Homo sapiens: one gene and its partners. The protein of the gene in region 2 interacts with the protein of the main gene of each other region in a biochemical or structural test. Each region holds a gene or a part of one and is shown on either strand. Other genes may lie near its edges.

Region 1 (8,168 bases), on a different chromosome or scaffold from region 2:
TTCCTGCCAGATTCAGTGTTGAAGGCGGGAGACACTTGGACTTGCTAATTTTTATTTCCTCCTCTTCCTCCTTCCCTCTAGTTCTGCTTCCCTCCCTCTTTCCTTCTTTCTATAATCAGTTGTTCTGAACCATGACATGCCAGACACTGTACTGGGCTATGGAGAAAACAACAGGTAAGGTCTTTGCTCTTATTTAGCTTCATGCAAGGCAGAAGCTATATGACACAGTGGTTAAAGCCAAACAGATCGCATCGGTGCTTGCCCCAGCTCAACCACTTACTAACTGTACCAGCTGAATAAGCTATGAAACTTTCTGGGCATAAATTCTTTTTTCTGTAAATATGGATATGGACAGATCCACCTCAAATGGTTGCTACATGCTATCAGACAGTAGTAGCACAGTGCCTGGAATATGGTGAGCATTACAGAGTTGTCATTATAGTTATTATATACTACAGTTACTTTATACTCTTAGGAGTGAGTGGATTGGTTTGCCCAAGGTGTAGTAGAAACTGCAACTCAAACTCTTCTCTCAAATAATGGAAATCAATTCATTGACAAAGATAATCTTCAGAGAAGGATCATCCTGCCCTCATAACATGAAGAAAAATCCTTCATTACCTGTTTTTATTCATTAAGGATCACTATTAATGGACAAAAAATGGGCTGAATACAGGTTCCTGAGAAAAGACATTCTTCTCAAATTTGCCTTTTAGCAGATCTTACCAACATTTCTTACAACTGTGGAGTTCCTTTCAAGTTACTTGGATATATGTTTCTTCCATCAAGAGGAGAAAAAAAATGGACTAAAAGGCAAATGGGATACAAGAAAGATTAACCTGAATGACTGACTATATGAGAACTTCTTGAAAGCAGAATTACAGCCTCATTCATCTTGGCAACCCTGGTAGGGTGTCTAGACTGATTATAGGGGCTCAAATATAGCCCGTCTGTATTCTAGGTACTTACCACACACTTCATTCTTCCCAATATCACTTCAGAGTGGGTACCACCAATCTCATTTTATAGACAAGAAAAAGGTAAAGCCCAGATTGTTAAACAATTACTCAACCTTACAAAAGTGCAGAACCAATCTGTTCTAAAGTTAATTCCCTTTTTCCATGTGAATGTCTCAAAAATGTTTGGTGGATGAATACAGAATTAAAAGCAAATTCTGGAGATGCCTTTTATTTCAGATCCGTGATCCAGGAATATGACTCCAGACAAGGGAGGTTTATTTAGGTAATGTTGCTCTCCTTCCCTTTAAAAGAGCTCAAAGCCAAAAATATAAGCCAGACATTATCAAAGAGCAAATGAATGTCTAGAAATAAACTGAGCATTTATAGAAGGATACACTAATTTGAACATCGGGAAACAGATGTTAAAATTTCAGATCACTTATTATTCAAACATGCCTTGGGGGGAAAAAAGTAATATGTAACTGCAAACTGTTGTTGTATTTGCAAAAAATAGTTTCTGAGTTTGTAAGTTGTTACACAATACACTGAGTTTCTTACGGTTGTAATCTTTCCTTTCCACTGAGATCATTCAGTCCCTCACTTGGATTGCTTTAAATGTAATCTGCTCAGTCAGAAGTAGAACCTGGAGTTAGGATTGCTTCACCAGAGCTAAATATTAGTCACTTTGCTCAACCCTCATTTGCCCTCTGCTGTCCCCACCCAACTCTCATTTTTCAGCCACACTCCACCAAATGCATACTTAGTGCTTGTGGTTCCAGTAACACAACACATTCAAGCTAACCTGTCTGTGGAAAGTTTGCAACCCTCTGAGTTCAGACTGGGGTTAGCCATGAAGCATGGGGTGACAGGAAATGGCATCCAGTAGTCACTCTTTCCTCTGGGTCCAGTCTTTTTCCCATCACTTTCATCATTGTCCGCTATTTTATTCCTCTGCCGCATCTCCTTTGGGACCCAAGAGGGAAGGAGGACACGAAATAATACAGGAAAGGAAATCAAAAAACAATTGTAGAGAAACCACTCCTCGTTTCCTCTTCTATGTCTCGTGTGTGTGTGTGTGTGTGTGTGTGTGTGTGTGTGTGTGTGTGTGTGTAAAATTTTAATTTCCCTGGAATTGGAACTACAGAAGTCCCTCCTCAGCCCTACCGGGAAAGTGGCACTGGGCACGACCGCCCTTTCCAAGGCAGTCTGCAATCCTTTTCGCGGAAGTAGAGGAGAAAAGGGGGTGGAGAAGGGCGCCGCGATGCAGCATCCGCTGAGAAAACAGGCAGTTCGCACGTGAGCGGGCTCGCAGCCTGTGGCGCCACCTGACCGGGCCTGGCGCCCCCAATGTGGTGCAGTGGCCCAGCAAGACCAGAAGGCTCAGGCCCTCCTGAACCCTTGCCAAGTCAGAGGTCCCTTTCTGCCTGGGCTCAGGCCTCGCCCGCATATAGTTTTCCATCTGCTTCCACCCCTGCCATCCTTCCTGGGGACCAAAAATGAAGAAAGACAACCCCCCCATCCCCCGGTATTTCGTCTTCCCCTCACAGCCTCTTCCTGTCCTGATCATCTGCTCAAAGAGAAGACGTTCTCTCCACACACTCCACCCCCGCCTCCACCTTCTGCGGCAATGAAGCCACGCCACCCTAGGGGGCTCGGGGGCCGGATGCTGGCGGGGCGCGCACTAGAGACACGCCGCACTGGAAGCAGCCCTCGGAGTCCCGTGAGCCAGGGAGACTGGGGTGCACCGCGCCACGCTGAGTCTCGGTGTAAAAGCCGAGAGCGTGAGCACCTCCTGGCCGAAAGCACGCGAGGCGCTCCTTGCCCAGGACCCCGCGCGCCCCCTCAGTTCCCGGGCAGCTGTCGGCGCGCACTGGCTGACGCGAGCTCTGCTCCCGCGGCCGCTTCGGGATTTTTTTGTCTATATAAGGGCTCGCTGGCCAACTCTGCGTTGGCACGTTTGTCACAGGCTGGCCATTATTTGCACACACGCGTGCGGCTCCGCGGGCAGCTCGGGTCGCAGACGCAGGCTCGCCCTCCTCTTAGCCGGCACCTCCTCCTCCTCCTCCTCCTCTCCCCTCCCTCCCCAGCTGTACTTACTTTATCTGGTCTCTGGCGCAGGGTGGGCGCTGCAGCCCTCCGTTCCCAGCAAACCGCAGCCGATTCGCCTCGCTGTCAACGGGTGAATGGAATTATTTATTTATTTATGGCCCCTGACGTGTCCTCGCCCGCCACAGCCAGCGGAGAAGGAGGCGGTGGCGGGAAGGGGAGGCGCGGCTGCTGAACGCCCTTGTGGGTGCGGAGGAGCGCGCGCCAGGGGTGGGGGCCGGACAGGCTGCGGTGGAGGCCGGCCCGGGGGGTGGTGGGGGGGAGCCGCCTCCCGGTGCCTGGAGACCGACTGAGCATGCTCCAAGCGGCTGTCAAAGCTATAGGCACTTTCTCTATCGCTCGGGGCACTCCACTTCGGATTTTAGTTTTGACCAAGGAAGAAAGCCAAAAGGCAGGTAGATCTGTCTTTCCAGATGGGTCGTAACTTGCTGTATCCGAAGTACTCTGTAGCCTGACCTAGAAGACAGATGTGCGGTAGCTCTGTGCAACCCAAGCATGGGAGAGGAAAGCATGCAAAAAAAGAAGAGTCTGGCCGAATGCAGGGAGAATAGGAGATCCTCATTGTGAGCTTGCAGGGAAAGTGTTGAGCCATTTTTCAACTGAGGCCTTTTTGGGAGAAAGAGGTAGGGCACTGTTGGAGATTAGACTCACCAACCAAATCACTTCACGGAAAAAAATATAATTGACACCATAGGAGGAAGGACATAGAAAACAGCACCAAAAAACATTAAAAATAAGAAGGATTTTTTTTCAAATCATTTATAATTCCTTTCATTTTTAATTTCTCAAATTACTTAGTTCTTCAAACCAGCATTTAGTTATTTGACAACGAATAGTGCTAGAGATAATGGTAATTCTGCTGTCATTGGTTTGGTCTCTTCCCCTGTCTAAAATGTGCTTCTTGGTAAAACTGGAAAGAGGAAGGGCTGGAAGAGAACATTTAAGTAACCCCATAGATTGGGTTTCTTTAATATCTTTAAGTTAAATTGCCACTTTAGAGAAAAAGAAACTATCCAAAAGAATAATTGTAGGTTTTGGCTTGACAAGTCCTATTGCAGTTTGTCTACCAGTTTAGCTAGCTTTCTCCTCCTTGATTTCACAATCATTTTAAGGTGTGTTCTATGATTCTTCACATTTTACGAATTTATAAAAAGAGTTAAGTCATTTGGGTAAATTCACATTGTCTTTGCCACAGCTAGTCTGTTGTAATGGACGAAATTTGAATTTCAATTTCTGTAGCTATGAAATAAAAGTAATATCAATCGTGTTGATTTCATAAGATTTAAGTGAAATAATATACATGAAGTGGCTGGTAGGCATAATACAAGATGAAAAAATAATCGTGATTAATAACATCAAAATTACTGGAAGATAATTTTATTGAAAGAATGATATTTGAAAATGAAAAAAAGGCAGAAAATTACAGAAAGGATTTTATATTTTTAAGCTAAAAATGCTTAAATAGACATTTGTATAAGACATAATAGGCCTTTGATAATGATGAAATGTCTAGCAGTGACTATAAACACTTCATTTAATTAAAAAAAGTTAAACATTTAAAAGAAACAACATAAAGGCACATTTCAAGGTCATAGTCTTGAGTGTTTGCTATTGATATTTTTCCTGCTCATTCATCACTTTTATTTCCTGTCAAAGAAGAGGAAGAAGAAAGACCATATGCTTTCTGAATTTTGATCCTATTCTCCCTTTTCCTTCTCTTTGATTTTTCTTTTTTGTTGTTTTTTTCTTATAGTCCCATGTTCTTGACCTGTTTAACCTATTGCTGAATGCCAAACATCACTACTTATAGCATGATATCGTAACCTTCTTTTTAAGTCTTGTTTTTTCAACAATTAAAACTCTGGATCTAATTTACCTACTGTCACAGAGTTAGTATTTGGGAACTCATTTCTAAATTGCTTTGTTGTGATAGCTAGGTATGTTATGTAAAATTTGATTGGACTAGAAAGGTATCTGAAAGGAGGGAGAATCAGCTAAGAATAAATTCAGCCAGTTTATCCTATGACTTACAGTTTAATATTGTTAAGAAATTGAGAAAAAAATACAATTTAGGGAAAAAATAAGCCATATGATTAGAACTTGGAATGCTCTGGTAAAATGTTTGCCTTGATTTATATTCATAAGCTGAAATAACAGTGGGAAAAACAAATAGCAATACACTTAGCATTCTAGCAACTCATATTCCACAGATGAGCAAACTGTGAATACGTACATCACATATATACTCATGAAGTCCACATGTCTTTTACTATATACCCACATCCTTGTGGTTTAGGTTCTTTCTCCCTTCTTCATTCCTCAGTCATACACAATCTTCTCACATTTTTCTGTCTTTTATCATTCACTGCCCTCTTTTCCATATCAAACTTGTCTAAACCTTTTTTCCTCCTTTAATGCCCAGCAAATATATCATCACTTCTATAGCATTTTAAGGATTCTTTGTTAACAAATAAGGGTTAAGTTCATCTTTCTCTGTGATCCTGCCCATAGAAAATGATTTAGGCCTCTATCTGGGGCATTTTGTTTCAGCTTCACATATGACTATATTATAATATGATTTTTGTTTCTGTAGCCCCAATATATTAGGCTATTTGAAAGTAGAGATGACATTTTATTCATCTCTGGGATTGTCACAGGCATTTGAACCAGAGTGACTCCATCTTGAGTAAGGCCTGGGTAAAATGAGGCTGAGACTTATTGGGCTGCATTCCCAGGAGATTAAGGCATTCTTAGTCACAGAATAAGATAGGAGGTTGGCACAAGATACAGGTCATAAAGACCATGCTGATAAAACAGGCGGCAGTAAAGAAGCCAGCTAAAACCCACCAAAACCAAAATGGAGACGAAAGTGACCTCTGGTCCTCCTCACTCCTCATTATGTGCTAATTACAATGCATTAGCATGCTAAAAGACATTCCCACCAGTGCCATGACAGTTTACAAATGCCATGGTAAGGTCAGGAAGTTACCCCATATGGTCTAAAATGGGGAGAAACCCTCAGTTCCCAGAATTTCCCACCCCTTTCCCAGAAAACTCATGAATAATCCATCTCTTGTTAACATATAATCAAGAGGTAATAATAAGTATAAGCAGCGGAGCAGCCCATGCTGCTACTCTGCCTATGGTGTAGCCATTTTTTTGTTCCTTTACTTTCCTAGTACTCCTGCTTTCATTTATAGACTCATCCCAAATTATTTCTTGCATGAAATCCAAGAACCCTCTCTTGGGGTCTGAATCAGTACCCCTTTCGGGTAACAGAATCATCTATCATGCAGCACAAATCGTTGCAGATAGAAAATAGTAACGTTTGCCAAATGAAGAAAAGAGATGACAGTGTGGCTGTAGGCAACAGATATGTGGTAGAAGCTATTGGTGCTCACAATATCTATGATCTGCCTGGCTCCACACTTCCTGGCTTTCCTTACAGTTATATTGGGACCATGCAACTATGTAGTTCTAAAACAGTATGAATGGAAGTGACATGTGTAATTTCTGGTAAAGGGAGTTAAGACCCAGTGTACCTCCTTCATCACTCCCTTTCCCTGCCATAGTACCATGTTTCTGATGAACTAGCTACAAAATGGAATCTCTGAAAAAGAAAGAAAGACTGCTTGAATTGCACTGTACTTTGTGTGAGCAAGAGACCATTGTTTTAAGCCTTGGAAATTTCAGGCTCTATTTGTCATGGGAACAAAACCTAGCCTATTCTGACCAATATAAGATATTACTGAAAAAGACAATAAGTCAGCCAGGCGTGGTGGCTCATGCTTGTAATCCCAGCACTTTGGGAGGCCAAGGCAGGTAGATCACCTGAGGTCAGAAGTTCAAGACTAGCCTAGCCAACATGGTGAAAACCCATCTCAACTAAAAATACAAAAAAAAAAAAAAAAAATTAGCCAGGTGAGGTGGTGGGCACCTGTAATCCCAGGTACTTCGGGAGGCTGAGGCAGAAGAATCGCTTGAATCCGGGAGGCAGAGGTTGCAGTGAGCCAAGATCGCAACACTGCACTCCAGCCTGGGCAGCAAGAGCAAAATTCCGTCTCGAAAAAAGAAATTGTAAATCATAAAGGCATAAAATCCCCAATGAAACATTGAACTTTTGAAAGTGCACTAATGTGTCCTTAAGTCAAAACTAAAAATATAGTCTCATGACCCCAAAATTCATATAATAGCCTTTTCAGAGTAAGACTGTGAGATTAAATTAAGGGTGTGTGTGTTTATAAACTACACACAATAGATTTGTTATAGCTAAGTACAAAAGACCAGATGTCCCAATGCTCCCCTCAACTTGGGTGAAAACAAATGTACACCTGCCTTCAAGTGGCAACATACTATGGTTGAGATTGTAGCTGGCTAGCAGCTGTGAATATGATTGCTGTGACCTGGTTTCACAGATTATACAAACTATAGAAATATATCTCCACTACTTCTAGATTTAAATCTTGCGTATATCTATATAGGCTACTTTGGAAATATCTTCTATGAAAAACTCCCATAGGATTTTGGGGAATGACAATCTAGTCCGATTCAACAAAGCATATAAAAGGGGAATCAATTGCATTGGCATTGCTGTATGGTATGCCTTTAAATAATAGCACACAAGAATCTTTGGTTTAAAACAAAATGGGTTTTTTGGCTCCAAAAATCTCTTAACGGATTATGTATTAAAAAACTTGTTTGTTGGGGTATTTTTCTAAATTTACATTTTATCAATTATTATCTGTAAACTAAACTTAATGGATTCTGGGTGTTTTATAGATGCTTTACCACGTAAATATTCTGATTATTTTGAATGCATATAAGATTAGAAACTTAAATTAAAAGTTATCATCATAGACTGTAAACTTTTCAGGCAGAAATCTTGTAAACGGTGGCTAATGAGTATTAATATATTTTATGAAATGAATCAATGATGACTGAATGTGTTATCAAGAAGCTAAGGCTTTAGTGCCTTTTTCTGTACAGTTGATCTTTGCTGGGTTCCTTAACCTCTCTGAGTCATATGTTTTTACTTTAAGATCTTAATAATTATTAATAGCTTCACTTTCTACAATTCAATGATACTTGCGAGCACTTCAAGGG
Region 2 (8,127 bases):
AAAAAAAAAAGTAGAATTTCTAGAAATAAAAAAGTAACAATTGATATTTTAAATTCAAAGAATAGGATAAACAGTAGATTAGTTCTAGTTAAAGAAAGAATTAGTAAACTGGAAGATATCACTGAAGAAATTACTCAGAATGCAGTATGGAAAAAAGTAAAGAGAAGATATGAAAGAAAGTTAAGAGACATGGAGATTTGAGTAAGATATTCTAATTTAAGAGATAATTAAAGATTGGGCAAGAGGCATTTGGCCTTCTTTGATAGAAAGCTTTGCCTGCCACCTTCAGGCTGGGTGCAGTGGCTCATGCCTGTAATCCCAGCACTTTGGGAGGCTGAGGCGGGCAGGTTGCCTGAGGTCAGGAGTTTGAAACCAGCCTGGCCAACATGGTGAAATTCCGTTTCTACAAAAATACAAAAATTAGCTGGGCGTGGTGGCATGTGCCTGTAATCCCAGCTACTCTAGAGGCTGAGTTGGAAGAATCGCTTGAACCTGGGAGGCAGAGGTTGCAGTGAGTCAAGATAGTGCCATTGCACTCCAGCCTGGGTGACAGAGTGAGACTCAGTCTCAAAATAAAATAAAATAAAATAAAATAAAAAACTAAATAAAAAGAGGCTGGGTGCGATGGCTCACACCTGTAATTCCAGCACTTTGGGAGGCCGAGGTGGGCGGATCATCTGAGGTCAGGAGTTCAAGACCATCCTGGCCAACGTGGTGAAACCCCCTTTTTTTTTTTTTTTTTGAGACAGAGTCTCACTCTGTCACCCAGGCTGGAGTGCAGTGGTGTGATCTCAGCTCACTGCAACATCTGCCTCCTGGGTTCAAGAGATTCTCCTGCCTCAGCCTTCCAAGAAGGTGGGACTACAGGCGTGTACCAACATGCCTGGCCAATTTTTTGTATTTTTAGTAGAGATGGGGTTTCACTGCAGAAACCCTGTTTTTACTAAAAATACAGAAATTAGCTGGGTGTGATGGCGGGCGCCTGTAATCCCAGCTGCTTGGAAGGCTGAGGCAGGAGAATCGCTTGAACCCGGGAGGCGGAGGTTGCAGTGAGTGGAGATCGCGCCACTGCACCCCATCCTGGGCAATAGGAGTGAAACTCCGTCTTAAAAAAATAATAATAATAAATAAATAAAAAGAAAAATATTTAGCGCTAAATACTTAACAACATAGCAAATAATTTGGGAGAGTAAGTAATTGAAGATAATAGAGTGCTCTTAATACAACTAGAGAATATAACTTCCAAAAGCAGAAGGAGAAATGTCCATTTATGTGATGTTAAAAAATGTAAAACTAAACAGTAGATTGTTTAGGATTTATGCATAGATTTTTTTTTTTTTGAGACGGAGTCTCGCTTTGACACCCAGGCTGAGGTGCAGCAGCACATCTTGGTTCACTGCAAGCTCCGCCTCCCAGGTTCACGCCATTCTCCTGCCTCAGCCTCCTGAGTAGCTGGGACTACAGGCGCCCGCCACCACGCCCTGCTAATTTCTTTTTGTATTTTTAGTAGAGATGGGGTTTCACTGTGTTAGCCAGAATGGTCTTGATCTCCTGACCTCGCGATCCGCCCGCCTCGGCCTCCCAAAGTGCTGGGATTACAGGCATGAGCCACCGTGCCCAGCCAAGTTTTTGTATTTTAGTAGAGACGGGGTTTCACCATGTTGGTCAGGATGGTCTCGATAGCTTGACCTCGTGATCTGCCCACCTCGGCCTCCCAAAGTGCTGGGATTACAGGCTTGAGCCACCGTGCCCAGCTAATTTTCGTATTTTTGTAGAGAATGGGGTTTTACCATGTTGGCCAGGCTGCTGTTGAACTCCTGACCTCAGGTGATCCAGCCGCCTAGGCCTCCTAAAGTGCTGGGATTACAGGTGTGAGCCACCGCGCCTGGCCAGAGCTTGCAGAGACTTTAGTAGGCTGGGCAGCTCCCCTCTCTCCCTTTTTTTCCCCTTCCCCCTCTCCTATTCCTTGGGAGTGAACTGGTTTTCTCTGGGAGCTCTGCCTGGGGCTTGGCAGGGAGCCGGGCCTATGTGTATCTATCTGGGAGGCCAATTTCTGAGCCACAGCAGAGAGGCATCGGCTGACCACAGTGTAGGGATAGAGCATTCCTGCAGCTACAGGGTTCTTGGGGGTAGCTACAGGTGATTGGCACTGCCTATCAAGTGTGATCACAAACACACACACCCATACTCACATACAGACGTATACATATGCATACACACGTCACTGTTTCCTTGGCTCTACATCTTCTTTCTGTGTTAGCCCCTTTGCACACATCACTCCTTTCCCTACTTCCTTCCTTCCTGTTATATCCACAGGAAACTGTCCCCCAGAGGAGAAGCCCTCTCTTAGGGCTCTTTCTCAGTAAGTTTGTCTGGGCCTCATTAAGTCTTTTTTAAGCAGGGCAGTACGTGGGGGGACTTTTAAGGATCTGGTTCCAGGCTTTGGTCTTGGGAAAGGAGCTTCAATTCCCTGCTGGTCTCTTGCCTCCTGCCAGGTCTGTCCTCCCCTCCCTTCTCTACCATTGGAGTGAAGCTTCCACAAGCCAAGTAGGCTGTAGTTATTTATCACAAGTGCTTACCCCAAATTCCTCAGGCTGTCCTACAATCTTTAAGCACAGTCATACTTTTAAGATATCAATGCTTATATACAATGCTATATTCCTTCCCTGCCTCCCTTCTCTCCTTCCTTCCTCTCACTTTCTTTTATTTATTTTTGAGACAGGGTCTTGCTCTGTCACCCAGGCTGGAGTGCAGTGGCATGATTGTGGCTCACAGCAGCAGCCTCAAACAGGCCTCCTGCTGCAGCTTCCTAAGTAGCTGGGAGTACAGGTGCACATTACCACGCTTGGCTAATTTCTTTATTTTGTAGAGATGGAGTCTCGTGAAGTTGCCCAAGTGGTCTCAAACTCCTAGCCTCAAGTGATCATTCCTCCTCGGCATCCCATATATATATGTATAAAAGACCCTGGGTTCTTTTTTTAAAACCTGTGTCTCTCCTGTTTTGACACCTACCACTCTAACTTAAAACAATTCCTTTTTTTTGTTGTTGGTTTTTTTTTTTTTTTTTTTTGAGACGGAGTCTCACCCTATCACCCAGGCTGGAGTGCAGTGGTGCAATCTCTGCTTGCTGCAATCTCCGCCTCCCGGGTTCAAGTGATTCTCCTGCCTCAGCCTCCTGAGTAGCTGGGATTATAGGTGTCTGCCACCACGCCCGGCTAATTTTTTTATATTTTTAGTAGAGATGGGGTTTCACCATGTTGGCCAGGCTGAGTCTCAAACTCCTGACCTCGTGATCTACCTGCCTCGGCCTCCTAAAGTGCTGGGATTACAGGCATGAGCCACCATACCTGGCCCCCTCTTTTTTTTCTTGATGGTATCTTATGTGGAGGATTTTACCCAAAAGTTCAGGGAGGCTAAACACTGGTGTAGTCCTACTTATTTATTGCTCAACATATCCCAGCTAGGAATGGAGGATAGAGACAAGGAGCAGGTATGAAGGCCAGTTGAGCTGTGTGATGTGGTGGATTTTTCAGATTACAATCATGCTTTACCTCTGTATTTGTCAGCTGTCTAGCAGAGTGGTTCAGTGCCCAGGCACTGGTGTCAAACAGGCCTGGGTTTGAATCGCAGCTCTTCCTCACTCATAAATGTGTGACCTAGGCCAATTAGACTAAATCCAAGTTTTCCCTTCTGTATAATAGGGGTGCTCTTTTTTCTTGCTCTGTCACCAAGGCTGGAGTGTGATGGTGCAATCACAGCTCACTGCAGCCTGGACCTCCAAGGCTCAAGCGATCCTGCCACCTCAGCTGTGATTACAGGTGTGAGCCACTGTGCCCAGCTGGGGGTGCTCTTAGCTACTCCAGGAGGCTAATGTAAAGATAACACTTGGAAAATATTCTGCCAGCCCTAGGTAAGAGTAAGCATTCACTAAATGAAAGTGATTATTTCTATAGAATAGGGAGTCACAGTTTACCACGTGTTTTCACATTGATTTAATCCTCACACCAGCCCAGTGAAGTAGGTATTATTATGATCCACATTTTACAGATGAGGAAATTGAGGCCTAGAGCAGTGACGTGAGGGGACCAAAGTCGACTTGGAGCTAACAGAGGCAGCAAAGATTAGAAACCATGTCTCCAGTCGCCCAGACCCAGAGCCCCACCTTGCAACCCTCTTCCCACACACCAGTTCTGTTTTTTTTCTGCCAGGCCTCAAAGTGTGGGACTTCAGGCTTTTCTATACTCGACTGTGAACACAGCCAGGGGTTAATCTCTTAAACTTCCCTCCAGTTTTGAAGTGGGGATCCTGCCCACACCTCCCCCAAGCCCTAAGCGGTGTCGGTAGCGGTCTCCTCCAGGGGGCGGGGCCTGTCATCTTTAGAAGCCACGCCAGCGATAAGCCACGCCCACAGACCAAAGCCTCGACCCCCACCCCCCATCCCCCGCCCTCCCCGATAGGAAACCAACTTCTTCCTCAGCTCCCCAACTAGCAACTGTGCCCGCAAGGTCTCTCGCGGCTCAGCATCTACCTTTTTTTTTTTTTTTTTTTTTTGACACAGGGTTTCGCTCTGTCACCCAGGCTGGAGTGCAGTGGCGCGATCGCGGCTTACTGCAGCCTCGAGCTTCTGGGCTGTCATCTAGGCCTCCCAAAGTGTTGGGATTACAGGCGTGAGCCTCCACGCCCAGACGGTGTCTACCTCTTAAACTCAAGCCTTGGAGTCCAACGCTCTACCATACGCAGCCCAGCCCTCCGCCATATGCAGCCCAGCCCGATGCCCAGTGCTTCGCACCAGGATACGTGGTTCTGTCTCTTTTTCATGCGCTCCCACGTCCGGGAGTTACAGTCCCGGCCCTCGATGGGCATTCCGAGCGCCGAGCCCCCTGCGCGGGCTCACTGGGTTCCGCCCCCGACGCGAAGCCCCGCCCCCTGACGCCCCGCCCAGCACCACGCCTCCCGGGCTTTCGCCTTACTTAGTGGCCCGCCCCGCCGCCCTTCTGACCCACCCCGCTAGGTAGTCCCACACGGCGGCCCTCGGCTCCCGGGCCCCGCCCCGGCCTCCTGCATTTGCCCGAGGCCCCCTCCCCAGCACTGGCCACACCCCAGGGTAGCCCCGCCCCCAGAGCTCCTCCCCCAGCGGCCGGGGTAGGGTGGCGGCTGGCCCAGCCGGGCCCCCGCTGCCCTCTGCCCTGGGCGCTTGGTCGGAGCGGGCTGGGCAAAGCGGGACAGGGCGAGCGCGGCGGCCCGGGGGCTCGGAGGCGAAGATGGCGTCCGGCAGGCGCGCCCCGCGCACCGGGCTGCTGGAGCTGCGCGCCGGGGCGGGCTCGGGGGCCGGCGGCGAGCGATGGCAGCGGGTGCTGCTGAGTCTGGCGGAGGACGTGCTGACCGTGAGCCCCGCCGACGGCGACCCTGGTCCCGAGCCCGGCGCTCCGCGGGAGCAGGAGCCCGCGCAGCTCAACGGCGCCGCGGAGCCGGGCGCCGGGCCCCCGCAGCTGCCAGAGGCGCTACTGCTCCAGCGGCGCCGCGTGACGGTGCGCAAGGCCGACGCCGGTGGGCTGGGCATCAGCATCAAAGGTGGGCGCGGGACACCGAGGGCGCGGGGTCGTGGTGTCTGGGGGCAGCCGAGGGCGCAGGGGGCTGGCAGCGCGCCCAGGACATGGAGCTGGAGGCTTCCTGTCTGGGGGTAAGGGGGGTCTGAGGAAACAGGTAACGGAGGGCACTGGGCACACCAAGGTTGGAGGGGGTTTCAGTAGTTGGTGGCCTTAGGGGGCACGGAAGACACAGGTGTGGATAAGATTGTGGGAGCACCAAGGACACGTGGGTGGGAGTTCTGTGTGGAGGCGGGGGGGTCTGAGGGGTAACCAGCATGAACATCAAGGACAAGAGGGGTCCCCCGGAAAGCAGAGTGTGGAGAAAGGGGGTTGAGGCCGGGACACCAGTGGGACAGGGAGGAGGGAGTCCCTGAGAAGCAACCAAGGTGGGTGCAGAGGGGAAGCCTGGAGTCTGGGAAGCACAGGGGTGGATAGGAGGCCTGGGTGCAGGCACAGGCTGGGGTCACAGGCAGAAGGCCAGCAAGGACCTAGGAATCTAAGGACCCAGGAAGGCTGCAGGGAGCCCTGACAGCTGGATTTGGGTCTCCTGATCTGACTATCTCCACCTTGCACAGGATAGAGCTTTCAGCCCCCAGGACTGACCGCTAGTGGGGTGCAGTTAGGGTGCAACCAGACTGTGTTTGAATCCAGGATCAGCTGTGTGAGGTTGCAAAAGTCCCGTCCCGCCTCTGAATCTGTTTCCTCAACTGTATAAGAGGATGACAGAGTTGTGATGTTTCTGAGAGCAGGGCTCACCACACCAGCACACTGTAGGTGCCTAGTTAATTACTGCTGTTAGCGGAGAGGAAAAATGGAGGCCAGCAGATACTCCCAAAGCAACTAAACATAGTTGTTAAAATCCTTGCACACCCCCAGCTGCTGGGTTCACTATTCCTGCCCATCTGTTTCTCAGGGTCCCAGCCCCCAGCAGGTGCTTTGGGAAAGGGTATCAGCCTTTGTCTCCACCTTGAATACATACCGTACCCTCTGGGGTCTCCCTGGTACTGGTTCTGTTGACTAGTGCCTCCAGACCGTTTGGCTTGGCTGAGGCGGTGGGGATGGTGGTGAATGCCACCACTGTGTGCCAGGTGCTGTGCCCAGGACACTAGTCTCATGATCCACTTCATCCTGGCAACAAGTGGTGAAAGGTAGGGAGTATAATTCCCATATTGCAGGTGAAGAAACTGAGACTCAGAAAGTTAAAATGATTTTCCCACGATTACATAGTGAGTGTCAGTGCTGGGATTTGAACCTTAATTATCAGCTACTGTCCCTCAGAGAGTGCTCAGGGAAGTTGATTCTTTCCTGTAGAAGGGCAGATCCCCAGGCAGCCAACCAAGAGGGGCTAAAAAGGAGAAATGAGAAAATGAGGGTATGGGCACCAGTCTTACCCCCAATCTCCAGCATGGGATAGGGCAACAGATGAATCCAAAAATTATACACTCAGTGTGTCAAAGCAGGAAGGAACTTATTCATACAGAATTCCATTCTGCAGATGGACACACTGAGACTCAGAGAGGAGCAGGGACTTTGCAAGGTCACACAAAGTTACTCCCCAGCTCCATAATTCTAGGTGGAGGGGAGGGTACTTTTAGGAGACTTCAGGTATTTCCATTGGATCCAAATCTGGGCTCCTGTTGCCATGGTAACCCCTCCTATAAAGTCTAGCTTAGTCTGAGGCAGCCATGAGTGATCATAGCTTCAAACTGAACTGAAGCCCCTAGTTTCAGGTGGGGGAGGGCAGATATAAATAGAAACCCCTTCCTCTCCTAGACTTCAAGCTCTGTGCAGATAAGCAAACGGTCGGGCCTGTGTGGGCGTCAAGAGAGGTGTTCCAGTCCCAGCTCCGCCACCAGACTTGTGTGACCTTGGAACAATGACCTCCCACTCTGGGCCACTAATTCTTCATCTTCAGTATTCTGGGGATGAGCCAGGAGTGTGATATCTGAGGGCCTGACTTGTCGTCTGTGGTAGGGCTAATAGTGTTGGTTCTGGAGCCTGGAGGCCTAGGTGCAAATACTGGCTTCGCTACTTACTAGTGGAGTGACCTTGGACAAGGGGCTTCCCTCCACACTTCAGTTTCCCTAATAGGAAACTGAACATACCTATGTGATGGGGTATTGTAAAGACGCAATGAATCAACATTGAAAGCATTTAGCACAGTGCTTGGCATTTGGTAAGTGCAACTAAGGTGAACTCTTATTACTATTTCTTATTTTAAAAGGGCATTTAAGAGTTTGGTAATAAAGATGTTTAGTAAAATGTATTAGCTTCTTTTGTATCCAAGATGCCATTCAGGCAGGTTTTTAGAATCTCTAGACTCTAAGGCTTTGGTTTCCAGCCTGGACTTTGGATTGTAAAACATTATGATTGCTAAAGCAGTCTTTTGAGGCCATAGGAATAGCCGACTTGTCTCTTGATTCCGGTTTGAGGGGTATCAGTGGGTTCCCACATTGTTGCCTTTTTGTGTGTGTGTGTGAGACAGTCTTGCTCTGTTGCCCAGGGTGGAGTGCAGTGGTGCGATCTCGGCTCACTGCAA
Region 3 (7,151 bases), on a different chromosome or scaffold from region 2:
ACGGGGTTTCACCACGTTGGCCAGGCTGGTCTCAGAGTCCTGACCCCAAGTGATTCACCTGTCTCGGCCTCCCAAAGTGCTGGGATTACAGGTATGGGCCACCACACCTGGCCTCAGGTACTTTCTCATATTAGGATTTAACAATTTTCCCTCTTCCCAGAGCCTGATCTCTATCCTTTTTCTTTCTCTCCTTTACTGGGAGAGAATCTCCAGTTTCTCCACATGCTCTTTTGCAGGTCTGAATGTTCGGATTCTATTGATTTCATGCTTGTTGATGCATTACTTTGGAATTGCTCTGACCTTATTGCTCAGCAGGTGCCTGGTGTGTTCCTAATTGAGCTCTCAGAGCTTGGACTTTTCCTCATGGAGCCTTTTTGTGTCTCTCTCTTCTCTGCTCTGTCTGCTTATTTTATTGAGCACACACGTGTATATCACAAACCATGGGCCAGGGGCTGTGAGGGCCTTACAGATATTAAGGCATTTAATCCTTACAACAATCCAAGGAGTGGTACTATGAGTCTCCATATGCCACAGATAAGGAAACTGAGACATGGACAGGGCGAGGCACTTGCCCAAAGTTAAAGTTAGGAAGTGGTAAAGGTGAGAATTGAACCCAGGCAGTCAGGCTCCAGAATCTGTGCTTTTTTCTTTTGAGACAGAGTCTTGTTCTTTTTCCCAGGCTGGAGTGCAGTGGCAAAATTACAGCTCATAGCAGGCTTGATCTCCTGGGCTCAAACTATCCTCCCGCCTTAGCCTCCCAAGTAGCTGGGACTATAGGAGAGCATAACCAGGCCCAGCTAATTTGTTTTCTTTTTTTTTTTTGAGATGGAATCTCACTGTGTTGCCTAGGCTGGAGTGCAGTGGCGTGATCTCGGCTGACTGCCACCTCTGTTTCCCAGGTTCAAGTGATTCTCCTGCCTCAGCCTCCTGAGTAGATGGGACTACAGGTGCACACCACCATGCCAGGCTAATTTTTGTATTTTTAGTAGAGACAGGGTTTTGTCTTGTTGGCCAGGCTGGTCTCAAACTCCTGACCTTAGTTGATCCACTTGCCTTGGCCTCCCAAAGTGCTGGGATTATAGGCGTGAGCCACCATGCCCAGCTGAGTCTGTGCTCTTAACCAACTTGCCATGCTGCCTCTCAAACGCCCATCCTTCCATGTAGGACCCCATCTGCCCTCTGGTCACGTGGGCCCCTGTATGTCCAGGCTTTGCTGTGAGTTCTACAAAAACACCAGCCTGGGAGTGTTGTGACACTGAGTCAGGTTCCAGGCCTGCACATGGTACGGGGGTCTCTCAGCTCAGGCAGAGGGTCCCTGCACCTCCCCAGTACCTGGGATGACCGTGATGGTTTTGAGGGCCCGCAGCACCCGGAAGGTCCTCAGGGCTGAGATGTTGCCCAAGTCCACAAACTCTGTCAGGTACCTGGGTAGGGGGTGGAGGGGGGTGGGGACTGTCAGAGCCTGGGGTGGGTGGTAGGACAGAAATCAGGGCTCCTCCAGGCCTGGGATGAGGATTCCCAAGAAATTGGGGGTACCACAGGGTCTGGGGGGCAGGGCAGACACCCCCAAAGCTCCTCTGGGAGCCCAAGGGTTGGGAAGGACAGTGCAGGAGCTCTGGGGGAGTGGGGATGGCAAAGATAGCCCGGCTCACCCAGCAGGTGAGGACCCATGGGTCTGTGGGTCAGGGCTGCCTCATGTGATTATCAGGAGTCCATCAGGAGAGTGCTGAGCCAGACCCTGAGAATGGCAGCTTCTAGAATTGTGCAGCTCCCCATCTGCACAACTGACCGATGTCCCCTGCAGCCCTCAGCCCAGGCAGCTTCCCTCTTTAAGGCCTGGCCCCCTCCCCTCACCCACCCCAGCCTCAGGATGTCCTGGGGCCCCTGCTCACGCCATCATGATGACACTGAAGTCCAGCCAGTTCCAGGGGTCCCGGAGGAATGTGAAGTCGTCGACACAGAAGCCTCGGGCCAGTATCTTGATGAGGGACTCAAAGGTGTAGATCCCTGTGAAGGTGTACCTGGGGGGGAGAGGGCCGGCCGGGACAGGCATGTCACCTGGGTAGGGGTCAGTGTGGCAACGACAGACCCCCAGAAGGGAGGGACACAGAAATGAAATATGCCACTCAGGTGGCTAAGGACACTAGCGAGTGATAGCATGGCCACCCCAGGGACTCAAGGTGTGGATGAGGGTCACAATGACAGTGTGTCTCCCTGAAAGACAAGAGCAGCACCACACAGAGGTGCAAACACCTGAGATGGGCTGTGTCCCAGGGCTGGGGAGCTCAGGGAGCAGGGAGACTTACTCCACATTCTTGGACCAGGGAGGCGGGTCACTCATGGTCATGAATACGCAGTTGGTCAAGATGGTGATCATGATGAACATGCTGAACAGCGTGGGGCAGGGTCAAGGAAAGTGAGGAAGCAGCTAGGATGGGAGGTGATAGAGGGTCTCCTGGGCCACAGCACCCCATCTCGCCCATCCCTAACCCCTCCCGCCTCTCCCATCTTGGGCAGGATATGCATGGATGAGCACCTTGATGGCCCCGCGCCTGACTACGCTGAAGGGGCTCAGCAGGTAGAGAGCAGGTGTGGCGGAGAAGCGGAAGATGGCCTTGCCCTTGTTGAGTACGATGAAGGTCTAAGGTGGGAGAGAGGCTGTGAGACCCAGGGACAGACAGACAGGCAGACAGATGGATGGATGGCAGACAGACAGAGGAAGCCTTCCCAGGCCCAGACCTTCTTATTGCTGTAGTAGGGATCCAGGTCCTCCAGGGGGATGCCGATGACCTCCGGCGGGGGGTCTCCGTAGATCATGGGTAGGTTCTTGCCAGCCTCCAAGTCACTTCGTGGCTTCCGTTCGGGCTCCTCAATCTCCATCTGCTTATTCCGCTGCAGCCGGGCCTCCTCCTCCACCGCCCGCTGTTCTATGGCTGCCAGTGACTCCCGGGTGAAGGGGCGCAAGCACTCAGGGCCCAGAGGCACCAGGGTGCACAGAGATGGTCTGGCCATCCTCGCATCCTGGGCTCAGAGACCAGAAGGGTGGTGGGTGGCCTGGGGAGCTGCAGTGCGCAGCCCCGGGGTGCTGGGCGGCCGCCCCTCCCTGGGCGGGCCGTCCACTCCTCACCTCCTGCTTGCCCAGTGGCCGAGCCGGGGAGGTGGGCGTGCAGACTCTATCAGGACTGGGAGATGTGCCTGCAAGGTGCTGCTGCTGCACAGGTGCTGGGCACAGAGCATCACCCCTGGCCCCCCCACCACACTTTCCCCAGAAGTGGCAGCGGCTGCCCTCAGGACCGACGGCAAACCAACCAGATTCTTTGTGGCCTTGGGACTTGGGGTCAACACCCCAGTGCCTTCGACTGCCTCCTGGGCCCAAGCTCCGGGAACTGTGTGGCTTCAGCCTAATGGGACAGAGAGAGAACCACAGCTGGCTGTGCTCAGGCGACCTCTGGATAGGCCAGGATGAGGGGCCTGGTTGGGGGGTTAGATCAAAGTGGGACTGGCACAGGGACTTCACCCTGAGGGCCGACGTGGATCCTGATATTGGCCACCTGGAGATGTAGGTGGAGACCATGAAGGTGGCAGCCAGGCTCTGTGCAAAAAGGTTGCTGTGATTGATTAGTGATGTCTGCCAGGGGCGCAAGGAGGAAGACCGTGGTGCCTCTGCCTGTGTTTGCCATCCCTGGCCTGGAGGGAAGGGAAAAGAAAGATGGGGGTGGGTGTGGATTCCTCTTTCCTGATCTTTGGGGTACTTGGTGTTGGGCTGGGAGAGGGAAGAAGAAAGGGCCCTGGGCCCGGCAGGGGTCTCCTAGCAGTTCCCTCCCACAGCCCTGGGGGCTCTAGCCCACTGGGCAGGCAGGGTGAACTGGGAGAGGAACATTGCATCTGGAGAGCTGCAGGTGCTAACGTGGAAGAGAAGACGTACAGGGAAGGTCACAGGGACAAGGAGATGGACAACTCCAATGGTGGGGGCAGGGCTAGAGCTCCTGGGGACTGCTTTTGGCTGGTGGTCCCAGCACAAGCTGGATTGGGGGAAGGGGCATCCACAAGGAGCCTTTGATGCCTGTGAGCATTGTGTGGTCTGGGCCCCACCTGGCCCCTCTCCCCTTCTGCCCAGCCCTCCAGAGCCTATTCCTGTGGAAGGGAAGGGGGATCACTTATTGCAAATGGCCCTGGGGGAATGACCACATCAGCAGGCAGTTGCAGTGAGACCCCTGCAGACCAGCTGCAGGCAGCCACTGCCAGACCCACATGGACAGACCTGGAGCCACCCCTGCACCACAGGGACCTGGACAGACCCCTAGAGACCCCCAAAGCCACACCTGAGGGTGGACCTCTCCCAGTGGGCCTTGACCCTTGCAGCAGCGCCCCTGCCCTGGTCAGCACGGGCGCTTCTCAGGCTTGCTCAACAGGTGGGGAGGGTGGCCAGGGAGAGGCCAGAGCCACTGGGCAGAGCTGGCCACGCCCTTGTGCCTGGCTCCCAGCTGCTCCTTACAGCACCCAGGGAGTCGTGTTTCCACGGGGATGACTCTGCTTATTCCTGCCAACCCTGCCCTCAGCTGCTCACTGGCCCCTGTCGTGAGCGTGGGCGTGCATGTGCACACACTTGCACACACAGGCACATGCACGCACACCCGGCCTGGAGCCACCCCACATGCAGACCTTCCCAGTTGCATCTCACAGCTCTGTCATATACCTTGCCACCTTCCTCCCCATCACCCACTCCACGTACACCCCCACATGCTGCTTGTCACTACACAGAAGGCGCCAACCAGCCAGATGGCCTTGAAGAGACCCCAGGGCTGCTGTGCACCCACCCAGTCTGCAGTCCCTGCTGTGATGATCCTCCTGTCCTGATACTGCTCACTCTTTTCATTACACGAGCCCAAGTAGGGCCACAAAAGCCCACAGACACATAGTCTGGCTCCCAACCCCAGCACTCGAGGAAATGACTCTCACCTGAGTCACCAGAGCTCCCCAGGGGACAGATCCAGTGTTTTCTTCCCCGCTGGCCCTCCTGAGCTTCCCACACCGCACACCGCCTTTCTTCTTGGGAGCAGGACATCACCTGTGCGTCCGGCCACTCTCCCCAGCTCTGCTCTGGGACCTGCCCCTTCCCTGCCCCTGGAAGATGCTTCTTCTCTGGGGCCTGCTCTGCAGCCTGTTTTCTTTGCACAGCGTACACCTCTCCCTTCAAAATGTTCACTTCCTCCTAATTTCCTCTTCTCCTACTCCTCCATTACCCCTGAGGTCTGGCTGTTTTGTAATGTGAGGGGAGGAATGTCCTCACTGGTTCCACTTGCTGAAGCTGGCTTTGGTTGGTGGCTGCCCGAAGCATCATGGTGGTAGATCTGGCCAGTTCCACACCCTACTGATGCTCCCTCTCCAGTGTCACTGCCCTCTCCACCCTCCACCCCTCACCTGTTCTGTTCAAATAACCTCCCCGCGTGGTGACATGCTCCTGTAGTCCCAGCTACGAAGGCAGGAGGATCCCTTAAGCTCAGGAGTTCGAGGCTGCAGTGAGCCATGATGGTGCCACTGTCCTCCAGCCTGGGTGACAGAGTGAGACCCTGTCTCAAAAACCAACCAAAGAAACACCTCCCACCAGGCTCTCCCCTAGACTGCCATAAATATTTGTAAAGTCACAAATTTCACCCCCTGCTTAAATCTTCAATGGCTTTCCACTGCTTAGGAGTACGTCCTAAGCCCTACCCAGGGCTCCCAAGGCCCTCCATGATCAGATCCCTGCCTCATTGCCTACCCTTCCCGCATCCTCTGGCCATGCTACCTCCATTTTCACAAATGGGCCAAGCTGTTTTCCACCCCCCTGCCCTAACCCCCATGCCTTTGCTTGTGGTTTGCTCTCCTCCCAGAGCACCCATCTTCTTTGTCTCCCTGGAGAGCTTCCATTCATCTTTCTAGACTCAACCCACACAAGAACCACCTCCTCCAGGAAGCCCTCCCTGGGTACCCTGGCTGGGTGGAACTCTCCCCTTGTTTGTGTCACCAGCTCAATAAAAGTTTATCAAATGAATAAGTGAGTGAATCACAGGGACACTCTACCTTAGCTCTTTTCTCCTTTAAGCATACCCTGAACCTAAATCATAACCAGAAACCATATCTCCTCTGAAATCACCACTTCAAACTCTTCCTTTGCCCCTGCCACCTTCTCAGCTCCTGGCTCAGGGGCCCGGTTGCTATAATCTTTGGGCACTTTCAGTTCTTTGACCCTGCACTTTCTCCCTTTCCACCTGCTTCTGACTTCATGTCCCTCCTCATCTAGGCTTACTTAGAAGATCATCATTCTGGTCCCTCCTCCACAGCTCCCAGGGAGAGATCCCAGAAGGAGGGATCTCTCTCCTTCTATCACACAGTCCTGGGGAACCCCTAACTGCATGTCCCCAGCTCTGGTTTTCCAAAGTCAGCCCCGAGCTGGAGAAATGTGGCTGGGGAAATGGTATGACTAGGCTGAGCTCACCGTAAATTCATGGTCACATATTCTGGGTTTGTCCTCAATCCTGCCAGCCCTGTAGTGTGGATTTTTCTGGTAGGCTCACTTTTCCACTTTTTGAAAACAACTATTTCATGCCTTCTCCTCTTTCCTCAGACCTCCGCGCTCCTCCCCATGAGCCTCCCAGCTGATGGTCTTCCCTGAGGAAGGAAGAACCACTACACACACACTGTCAAATCCACAGAACCATCTCCCCATCCCACCCCGTCTTCCTCTATCCTGTTAGAATAATAATAAGAAGCAAGGGTCAGGCTTTCCTGGGGCTCAGGACCCCAGCCCCTCTTGCTTCTCAAAGACCTCTCCAGGTGCCCTCTCTCTACTGCCCATCCACCTCTCCCCATCTGTGAACAGACTCTAGTGTCCCCCACTTTAAAAACAATGGCAGTGGTGACAAAACTATTCTCCTGGCCCCACACCTCCCTGCATCTATTGCCCTATTTTTCTTTCCTCTTCACAGTAAAACTTCTTGGAAAGTGTCTACACCAGCTGTCTTGACTTCCTTACCTTTCATTCTCTCTCCAATCCATTCCAACCTGGCTTCCGTTTCCCCTTCAACTGAAACTACTTTTGTCAAGTCACTAACACCCTCCCTGCTGCCAAGTCCAGTGAACACGCTTCTGTCCTCAGCTCCCAGAGCCTC
Region 4 (8,295 bases), on a different chromosome or scaffold from region 2:
TAATACAATAAAGCAGACAGAAGAATTAGGTTATGAAAAGACAGAGAGATAGTGAGCATCTAACCAAATAGGATTCAGTTGAAAAATTTTTTTTTATCCATTTAATTCCATGGACCATGTTCATGGCAGTTTTGTATCAGGAGAGGATCTTGGGTGGTTTAAGGAGGGATCTGTATAAGAATTGAATTCTCAGAAAGGATATGACAGGGAAGAAAAAGAGAATCTAACCTTATGATGATGTATGTGGGTACATTTTTTAGGCACAAGATATATCTGGAAAGGAAATGAACAGTTCAACAAATAGAAAAATTACAGAATTTTGAGGATTGATGATAACCTAAGGATTTTATCCAACACTTTTGATTTAGAGGTGAAGGGTTTGAGTCCCAGAGCAGTTAACAACTTGATTTTGGTCACAGAGCTAGTTATCAGCAGAGAACTGTAGAACTTCTGCACATGTCAGTGCTTTTCCACATTATGTTCCAGGACATAATTCATACAAGTTAATTGTGTATTTAATATTTATTTTAATGCAATAACCCACTCACATTGTGATTTTAATTCAGCATATTTTAAAATCTGTTTTTAGGACATTTGAGGACAAGAGACAGGCAGGAAAAGTGTTTCAGTGGAAATAGCATGGGCTTAGTAGTCAGGATTGGAATTCTGACTTTAATATTTATCAGCTCCATGACATTGGAAGATATTTTAAATCTCTGTGCCAGAATTTCCATAACTTTATAATTGGAAAAATATGTCCTATTATGTTGGGATTAAGAATCCCAATTTAAATAAAGTGTATAGAGACCTGGGATTGTTGAGTATGCAGACAAAAAGGCTGAGAGTTGTAGGAGACTGTGGTGCTGATATTAGTATTCAAACTGTTGACTAATAGGGTCTCTTCTTAAGAGGAGGATGGATTCCTGTGGTGCATGGTTGAATGTAAAGCCACTTAAGGAGAGAGTAGTGTCTGCCAGAGGCACCAACATACACTGATCACCTGCCTCTTTCTTGCTGTCATGGATTTGATGCATCAAAAAAAAGTCAGTTATTACACCCTTAAGTATCTTTCTGGGTCACAAATTCTACTAAGTGTAGCATTGACTTTGTTGCTTGTCTTTCTTTCTTTCCTCCTTTCCCCCAGCCTTCTCCTCCTCTATCCTTTTTTGAGCAGCAAGAATCCTACCCCTTTGGGATGGTTTTATGATAAAATATAACTATAGGACAATGGATTACATTGTCTTCTATGTGTCCCTTTATATGTGAACACAGCAGATGGTTCTTCTCACTTTGATATTATCCTTAATATTTAGTTTTACTTACAAAATTGTGCAACAATATGAAGTACAGTATCTCTTATTTGCTGCCAGTCTTTCTCAGAGAAAGCACATTTGCCCTCCTTAATATTTAGTTTTACTTACAAAATTGTGCAACAATATGAAGTACAGTATCTCTTATTTGCTGCCAGTATTTCTCAGAGAAAGCACATTTGCCCTCTTGTAAAAGAGGGGGTATGTTAAGTGTGAGAGAGTAGACAGATCTCATTCACGAACACAAACATAGGGTTAAACTAGCAGGTGAACAGTGTGAAGTGTGTGTGTGTGTATGTGTGTGTGATTTTCCAGGTTAGGGATCCAGAAAAACTTGCCCTAGTTAAGGATTCACCAGCTACTATATTTCTTTAGAAAACTTGCTTTAATATTACATGTACAATTCCTGTGAATTGCCAGATTTATGTAAAGAATGACAGGGAGAAATTCTTCAGTCTTCTATCAGGATAGAGCTCTGCTCCAGGGAACGCTTATGCAAATCTTGCAGATTTTCTTGCTGGAGTGTTAGATGAAAAGAAACTAGTAAAGAGTTTGAACCTGGGAAACGCAAAGAATTTTGGGAAGGAGGACTGATTGTGGTTTTGATTTGAATTTGACACACGTGACTTTTCTTCAACAACTTCTCTGAGAAGGATGAAAATCAGGTTAAATGAGGCTATATAAGTGAAAGGGTTTATAAATAGGATTGATTTATGTGAAGGGAAGGCACGCACAAACAATAGTTACTTTATGTTTCAATGTAAAATAGTCATCGTCTTGACTAAAGTGAAGAATCTGTTTTTTTAGGAAGTCTTTCCCAATGCTTGATCAATCTGAGTTGTCAGGTGCCTACGCCAACTTCACAAATAAACCAAGAATATTTCTGCATTTTTCTTTTCCAGTTGGAGAGTGGCCTTTAAATACTTTATTGAAATACAATATATCCAGCAGGGCTGGATTTGTGGGTATGAGCTTGGGCAAGCTTCTTTTCCTAAAATCAGAGCACAGACTATTCATTCTCAGCAGACTACTCTTCCTAAAGTATTTAGATTGCTTTTGCTAACTGTAAGCCTTCTTCTTCTTCTTTTTTTTTAATGGAGAATAGCTATGCTTCATTTTAAAAATGTCAATTCTAGTATAAACACAGCACTCTTCATATTGAGAGCTTTTGAACCCCGCTCCTGAACAGAAATACAAAGGAAACCCTTGAAAGCAAAGCAGATGTTGTACTGGCTATATCTAGGCCTTGATTTGTTTATAGTTTAAAAATCCATGGGAAAATAATGATCAAAGGCAGGGTGTAATTCATAGAGAAAATTGTAAGACGACTTCATCTGGCTAGATTCTGTAAAGAGTCTTTGATTCAAATGGTTCACACAAAGAAAAAATGTCCCATAGGTTCAGAGTTCTTTCTGGCAATAAACTTCCAGTGTAAACAGGAAGGCTCTTGGGCCTCTTACAAATTTTAGAAACAAATGATACTCATTGCCTTGCACTCAATAATTTTGACTTTGAGACAAGAGTTGGAATGGTTAATAAAAAGTTCCAATTCTAAGTTCAATATGAAGTTTATTTGCCGTTACCATAATATTTATTTGTGTGCGCAGCAGTTTATTGAAAGAATGTGAAGGACACATGCTATTTAGTATATTTAATACTAACTAAAATCCTATAATTCGAAAGAACTTGACTATTATATAATCAGTACCAAAGAAGAGAACTAGGAACTCCAATCCTTTATGCTGATTGATACTGTGTAGCAGAAATATTAAACAATTACCCCAAAGTTAGAATAATGTAATTTTCATTATAATTTAGAAAAAGGGGCTAGTGAAACTTTTTTAGCAAAACTGATGATTTTTTATGATTAAAAGTGTAATTTGAGTCTAATTTTCAATGGACACAAATGCACATAGAATTAATTGAAGTAATGGGGAAATCAATAGTAGATGCACAACAGTTTAAATAATAATTGTAACAATTATTATTTTAAAAGAAACTTCCTCAGGATGAGAAAGAATACATATATATAAGAATATATATTATATATATTCTTTCTCATATGTATATGTATATACATATACATATATATACACACACATATATATATATATATATATATATATATAATTTGAAGGGGGAGTGTCTGAGTGATAGTACACACTTTTCTATCTTTAAAGCCCATTTAAGATCTGGGGAAAAAGGTATGTCTCTGAACCAGTTTGAGTGGATTTTTCCAAATGAAACCTCAAATAGCATTTATATTTAAGCCCTAACAAACACTTGGGAAGATTTGAAGTTAAAAGCAAATTGTGGTGGGGGTACAGCACAGGTTTTGTGGTTTGGTTTTGTTTTGCTTTTTAAATAAACACAGTCCACAAAAACCCATCTGCCTTCACCTGGAAGGACCAGTTCTTTAATTAAAAAAACGCTTTGGCTTCGGTTTCACTGGGAAACTAAAGCCAGAGCCCCTAAACTTTTCTCTCCGCAGATCGGGTGAGCTGGGGAGGGTGCTCATCCACTTCATTGCAGGGGGAAGTACAGCCTGGAACCCCTTTCGGGATACTGTCATTTGCCCCTTCTTCCCATCTCTTACTCTATCCTCAGAACCAGTATGAGAGTTTTCTGGGGCTAAGGCAAGGGGCAGTGGGGTCAGGCGCTGGAAGGACTGGTTTGCAAAGAGATAAGCTTTGGAATGAAGCCGCACAGCTGAAAACTCGCGGCAAGACATGCTCGCGCTGTGGCGAGTCAGTTCGAGAAGCATTTATCCCTACTCCCCTTAGCTTTCTGAGCAGCATTTGCAGTCAGGTGCAAACAGATCGCATATTTGGCGCAAAGAGCCCTGAGGATGAGGGACGTGGGATCATTCCCCGGTTTCCCCCGGGCCAGGTGCTAGGTCGTTTGAGGAGGAACTGTTCTCCAGTTCTCAACGCCTGCAAAGGCGGCTATAGGTGGCAAGCGGAGCTGTCCAGCACTAGTGAGGAGCCAGCGGAGCCGGGAGCCCCGCGCACCCCGCCCGGCTGAGGCTCAGCAACAGTGCTGTCTTGTCAGAGCAGACGCTGTCCTCACTGCCGCCCCTTTCTGGGCTCGCTCCGCGCCCACACGGCCTCGCACGAGGCGGGGAACACAAGTCCCCAGGAGCTGCTCCAGCAGGATGGGCGCCAAAATGTTGCCCCTGTCCTTCCCTTCCCCTGAAAGCGTCTCCTCTGGAGTGGGCTGGCTGGACGCTTGGCCTTTCCCTTTTGCCTCGGAACTTCCTAAATAAACTCGGAGAAAGGACAACATGGACCCTAACCCCCACTTCACACTGTCAGGTTTCCCCAAGGTGGCTCCAGGGGGAGGCCTCTCGCCCCCCAGCCCCGAGCCCTTCTCCCCACCAGCGCCGCCGGGACCCATCTGCTCCCGAGGGCCGAGGATAAGGCGTTTGGGGTTGGGGCCCTCAGTCCGACCCGAGCTCCTGTGCGCACCTCCTCGGAGCAGGGAGGGCGCGCAGAGGACAGCAACGAAGTGTCCTCGTTGCTCCTGAAACGTGGCGACAGGCGAGGCAGAGACTCCCAATGAGTATGATGGCGACACGTGATTCCCGCGGAGGGAGAGCATGGGGGGGGGCGGGGGGATAAAGGGAGAAGGAGGGAGGCAGGGCAGCAAGTGGAGAGAGGCGGGAGCAGAGAGGGAAAGGGGGCGAGATAGGCGCGCAGGCGGCAGAAGCCTCTGCCTCTGCCTCCCCTTCTGCTTGGGCCGCAGCCCTCCCCGCCCCGCCGACCGCGGTCACACACTCTCGGAGCCTCCCCGTGAGCGGGAGCGCGGCGCACGGCGATGCGCCGAGGCGGGCGCTGAGGCGGCGCCGCGCGAGCAGCAGCAGAGGCGGCGGCGGCCCCCAGCCCAGCCCGGCGCCGCCGCCGAGCCCGGGCCCCAAGGTGCGGCGGCGCCCCAAGTTCCCGCCATGAGCAGCCGGCTCGGGGGGCTCCGCGGCCCCGGGGACTCCCGCCCCGCCGGGCGCGACCGCAGCGCCCCGCGGCCCCGACGCGCTTAACGTTGTCGCTTGCCGGTCCCGCCACCGCCGCCTCCGCCGCCGCTCGCGTCCTCGCCGCCACCGCCTCGGCCGCTGCAGCTCCGCCGGCAGCATGTCTCGAAGGAAGATTTCGTCCGAGTCCTTCAGCTCCCTGGGCTCCGACTACCTGGAGACCAGCCCGGAGGAGGAGGGGGAGTGCCCCCTGTCTAGGCTCTGCTGGAATGGCAGCCGGAGCCCGCCCGGGCCGCTGGAGCCCAGCCCGGCCGCAGCTGCCGCTGCCGCCGCCCCGGCCCCGACCCCGGCTGCTTCTGCCGCCGCCGCCGCTGCCACTGCCGGGGCCAGGAGGGTGCAGCGCCGGAGGCGGGTCAACCTGGACTCGCTGGGCGAGAGCATCAGCCGCCTGACGGCGCCCTCGGTGAGCGGGGGGCGGAAGGGGGGACCGCCTTCGGGGGAGAGAACGCGGATCTGTAAAGTTGGCGCTGGGCGAGCCGGGGCGCGAGCGCAGAGCCCGACCGCTGGGGGGCGGCCCGGCCTTACCCTGCACGGCCTAGGGTTCCAGTGGCTCCGGCGACAGAGGATCCCCTAGGCTAGGGCGGAAGAGGGGACTACAGCACTGGGAAGGAATAAGATTCCACTCCTTTGGGGTATCCTGATTCGGGGGCCTGTCTGCCCACCTCTAGCCTTGAACCCTACTTCACCACTGTTCCCCCTGGACAGCCCCAGTGCTGCTTCACACCCACCTGTTTTCTTTCCCCTAAACTTTCCCAGGCACTGTGTTCTGCAGTTCAGCTTCCCTGTCTTTCATCCTGTTCTCCAGCATCCCAAAGGAGCCCCAACCCCTTCCAGGAAACCCTTCCTCTCCTTATTTCCCACACTCTCTTGGTCTTAGCGTGACCTTCTCTGACATCTTTGAATTCCACAGGCTATCTGCATTCTATGTTGCATCCTTTTTCTCACATCTTCAGATACTTTTTGCCAGATACTTTTCTGAGTTGCCTTCTGTTCAAGTAATCTCTAATCTCGAGTTGTCCTCACCCCGTAGCTTTTTTTCTTTTTCTTTCTTATCCACTAGGCATTTATTCTTCTCTGGGTAAACCTGGTGTCTGGATTTCTTTTTTTTTAAATTAAATTTAATTTAAAGTCCCGGGTTACATGTGCAGGATGTGCAGATTTGTTACATAGGTACCAAACGTGTGCCATGGTGGTTTGCTGCACCTACTAACTCATCACCTAGGTATTAAGCTTCGCATGCATTAGCTATTTAAACCGCTCTGTACTTCTTGCACCTGTACCTCATCCTTTACTCTCTCCTCAATGGATTCTCTAGTGCTTTCTCTCTCACATTAGCTATTTAAACCTCTCTGTACTTCTTGCACCTGTACCTCATCCTTTACTCTCTCCTCAATGGATTCTCTAGTGCTTTCTCTCTCACATTAGCTATTTAAACCGCTCTGTACTTCTTGCACCTGCACCTCATCCTTTACTCTCTCTTCAATTGATTCTCTAGTGCTTTCTCTCTCATTTTTTGGTGGCTTCTTTATATTAGGCCCTTCCTAAATATTTGTGGAATGAATAAATGCCTCTCCAAACTTGTGGTCATCTTGGGATGTCTGTATCAGCAGTTTCAGGTGTACAACAAACTCCCCCTGGTTGTAGGCATCCTTCCAGAGGAGTACTGCCTTATTCCTGCCCAGGCATTTCAGCTACCCTTGGCTTTTACCTCTTGCAGGAATGCCAGACCTCTGATCCAATCTTACCGTGTCTGGGAGAGCTCTGTTTTAAAGAAATCCACTCTGTTGCAGACAGAATTTGAAAAAGATTCAGCGTCAAACCTCCACCCATCTTTTATGCTCACCCTGACCTTGGATACAAGAGCTTTAGCTCCTCCTGACAGCACTTTCACCTGCCCACCCCTAGGACTTTTACTTTTTTAAAGTTTCCGAAATGAATCTGAACACTGATCTTGTTTGATTACTGTTGAGTCTCTCTTTTGAGATTACTACTGCAAATGATGGTAGGGGGGACCTAAGAAGGAGTGGAACCCTGAGGGGACTGAGTACGGGTACCAGACAGGTCTACAAATATTCTTGTGGCACTTGTATTAATGGAGAATGATTTTTTTCTTTTACGAGACCTGATTGAAGATGTATAAATCACTTATTACATTATTTATTTTGAACTAATTTAATTCTTAGGAACACATATTGAGAAACAGTCATCTTCCTATTCTTGTGTATTTTCGTATTTGATATATCTTTCTGCCACTTTTTCTTTCATCATTAACCTAGAAAACAATCCTCAGAATAGATTGGCTACTCTTTGCTGTTCTTCCCTGCCAATATTTCCCAGGCAGCGTAATTTTATAAACTATTTGATGTTGCAAATTGTTGAAAATATTTATTTACAACAGGAGTCCAATGACCCCGAGCGTCTGTAGGCTTGTGTCAGTACTTAAAGCAACATTTGTGCAATAAAATAGTTATTTAGTACAACAGATTCTTATTTAATGAAATGATTTTGCTAAAGATAATGATTAGTTTGGGGAGAATTGTTGATATAACCTTGGAGGTTTTTTTTTTTTTTTTTTTTTTTTTTTTTTTTTTTTTGCCTAAGAGAATTTACAGATTTCTAAAAAGTAATGTCAATGCCTCTGATAATGCTAATTTAAGCTAAGACTATTTTCAACAACTTACATGAGGAGTAGATAAAAGAAACTGAGAAATGCAGTATTTTCTGCTAGAATAAGAGGAAGGAAATAGTCTCTGATGGTTACTTTTATAAGTTAAATTTGAATGACTGGCTTTTTGCTGGATGAAAAGAATGTATCCAGAGAATGGTTTTCAGAATAAGCAATTTAAAAATAATTGTGATGATCAAATAAATGCAACAGCTCTATATACTTTCCATGCCATAGTTGTTTTCTATTATGAAAAGGGTCTGTCAGGTGGACGCTGAGAACATACAGGTGAATAT

What was found.
Region 1: the proteins of SNTA1 (region 2) and SLC16A7 interact in a test that uses a peptide from one of them, tested with the Homo sapiens proteins (3 studies listed by BioGRID and IntAct, with this or other methods).
Region 3: the proteins of SNTA1 (region 2) and SCN4A interact in a test that uses a peptide from one of them, tested with the Homo sapiens proteins (2 studies listed by BioGRID and IntAct).
Region 4: the proteins of SNTA1 (region 2) and GUCY1A2 interact in a test that uses a peptide from one of them, tested with the Homo sapiens proteins (3 studies listed by BioGRID and IntAct, with this or other methods).

The regions. Positions count from the first base shown.
Region 1 is NC_000012.12:59,591,125-59,599,292, reverse strand, and holds the start of SLC16A7 (monocarboxylate transporter 2), read right to left. Parts: upstream 3,265-8,168; 5' UTR 3,057-3,264; intron 1-3,056. UniProt on the Homo sapiens protein: Proton-coupled monocarboxylate symporter. Catalyzes the rapid transport across the plasma membrane of monocarboxylates such as L-lactate, pyruvate and ketone bodies, acetoacetate, beta-hydroxybutyrate and acetate.
Region 2 is NC_000020.11:33,440,755-33,448,881, reverse strand, and holds the start of SNTA1 (alpha-1-syntrophin), read left to right. Parts: upstream 1-5,118; 5' UTR 5,119-5,261; coding exon 5,262-5,571; intron 5,572-7,569; exon of another isoform or gene 7,570-7,764; intron 7,765-8,127. UniProt on the Homo sapiens protein: Adapter protein that binds to and probably organizes the subcellular localization of a variety of membrane proteins. May link various receptors to the actin cytoskeleton and the extracellular matrix via the dystrophin glycoprotein complex.
Region 3 is NC_000017.11:63,969,830-63,976,980, forward strand, and holds the start of SCN4A (sodium channel protein type 4 subunit alpha), read right to left. Parts: upstream 3,090-7,151; 5' UTR 3,013-3,089; coding exon 2,740-3,012; intron 2,642-2,739; coding exon 2,523-2,641; intron 2,397-2,522; coding exon 2,307-2,396; intron 2,022-2,306; coding exon 1,893-2,021; intron 1,425-1,892; coding exon 1,333-1,424; intron 1-1,332. UniProt on the Homo sapiens protein: Pore-forming subunit of Nav1.4, a voltage-gated sodium (Nav) channel that directly mediates the depolarizing phase of action potentials in excitable membranes.
Region 4 is NC_000011.10:107,015,195-107,023,489, reverse strand, and holds the start of GUCY1A2 (guanylate cyclase soluble subunit alpha-2), read left to right. Parts: upstream 1-5,013; 5' UTR 5,014-5,434; coding exon 5,435-5,737; intron 5,738-8,295. UniProt on the Homo sapiens protein: Has guanylyl cyclase on binding to the beta-1 subunit. Isoform 2 acts as a negative regulator of guanylyl cyclase activity as it forms non-functional heterodimers with the beta subunits.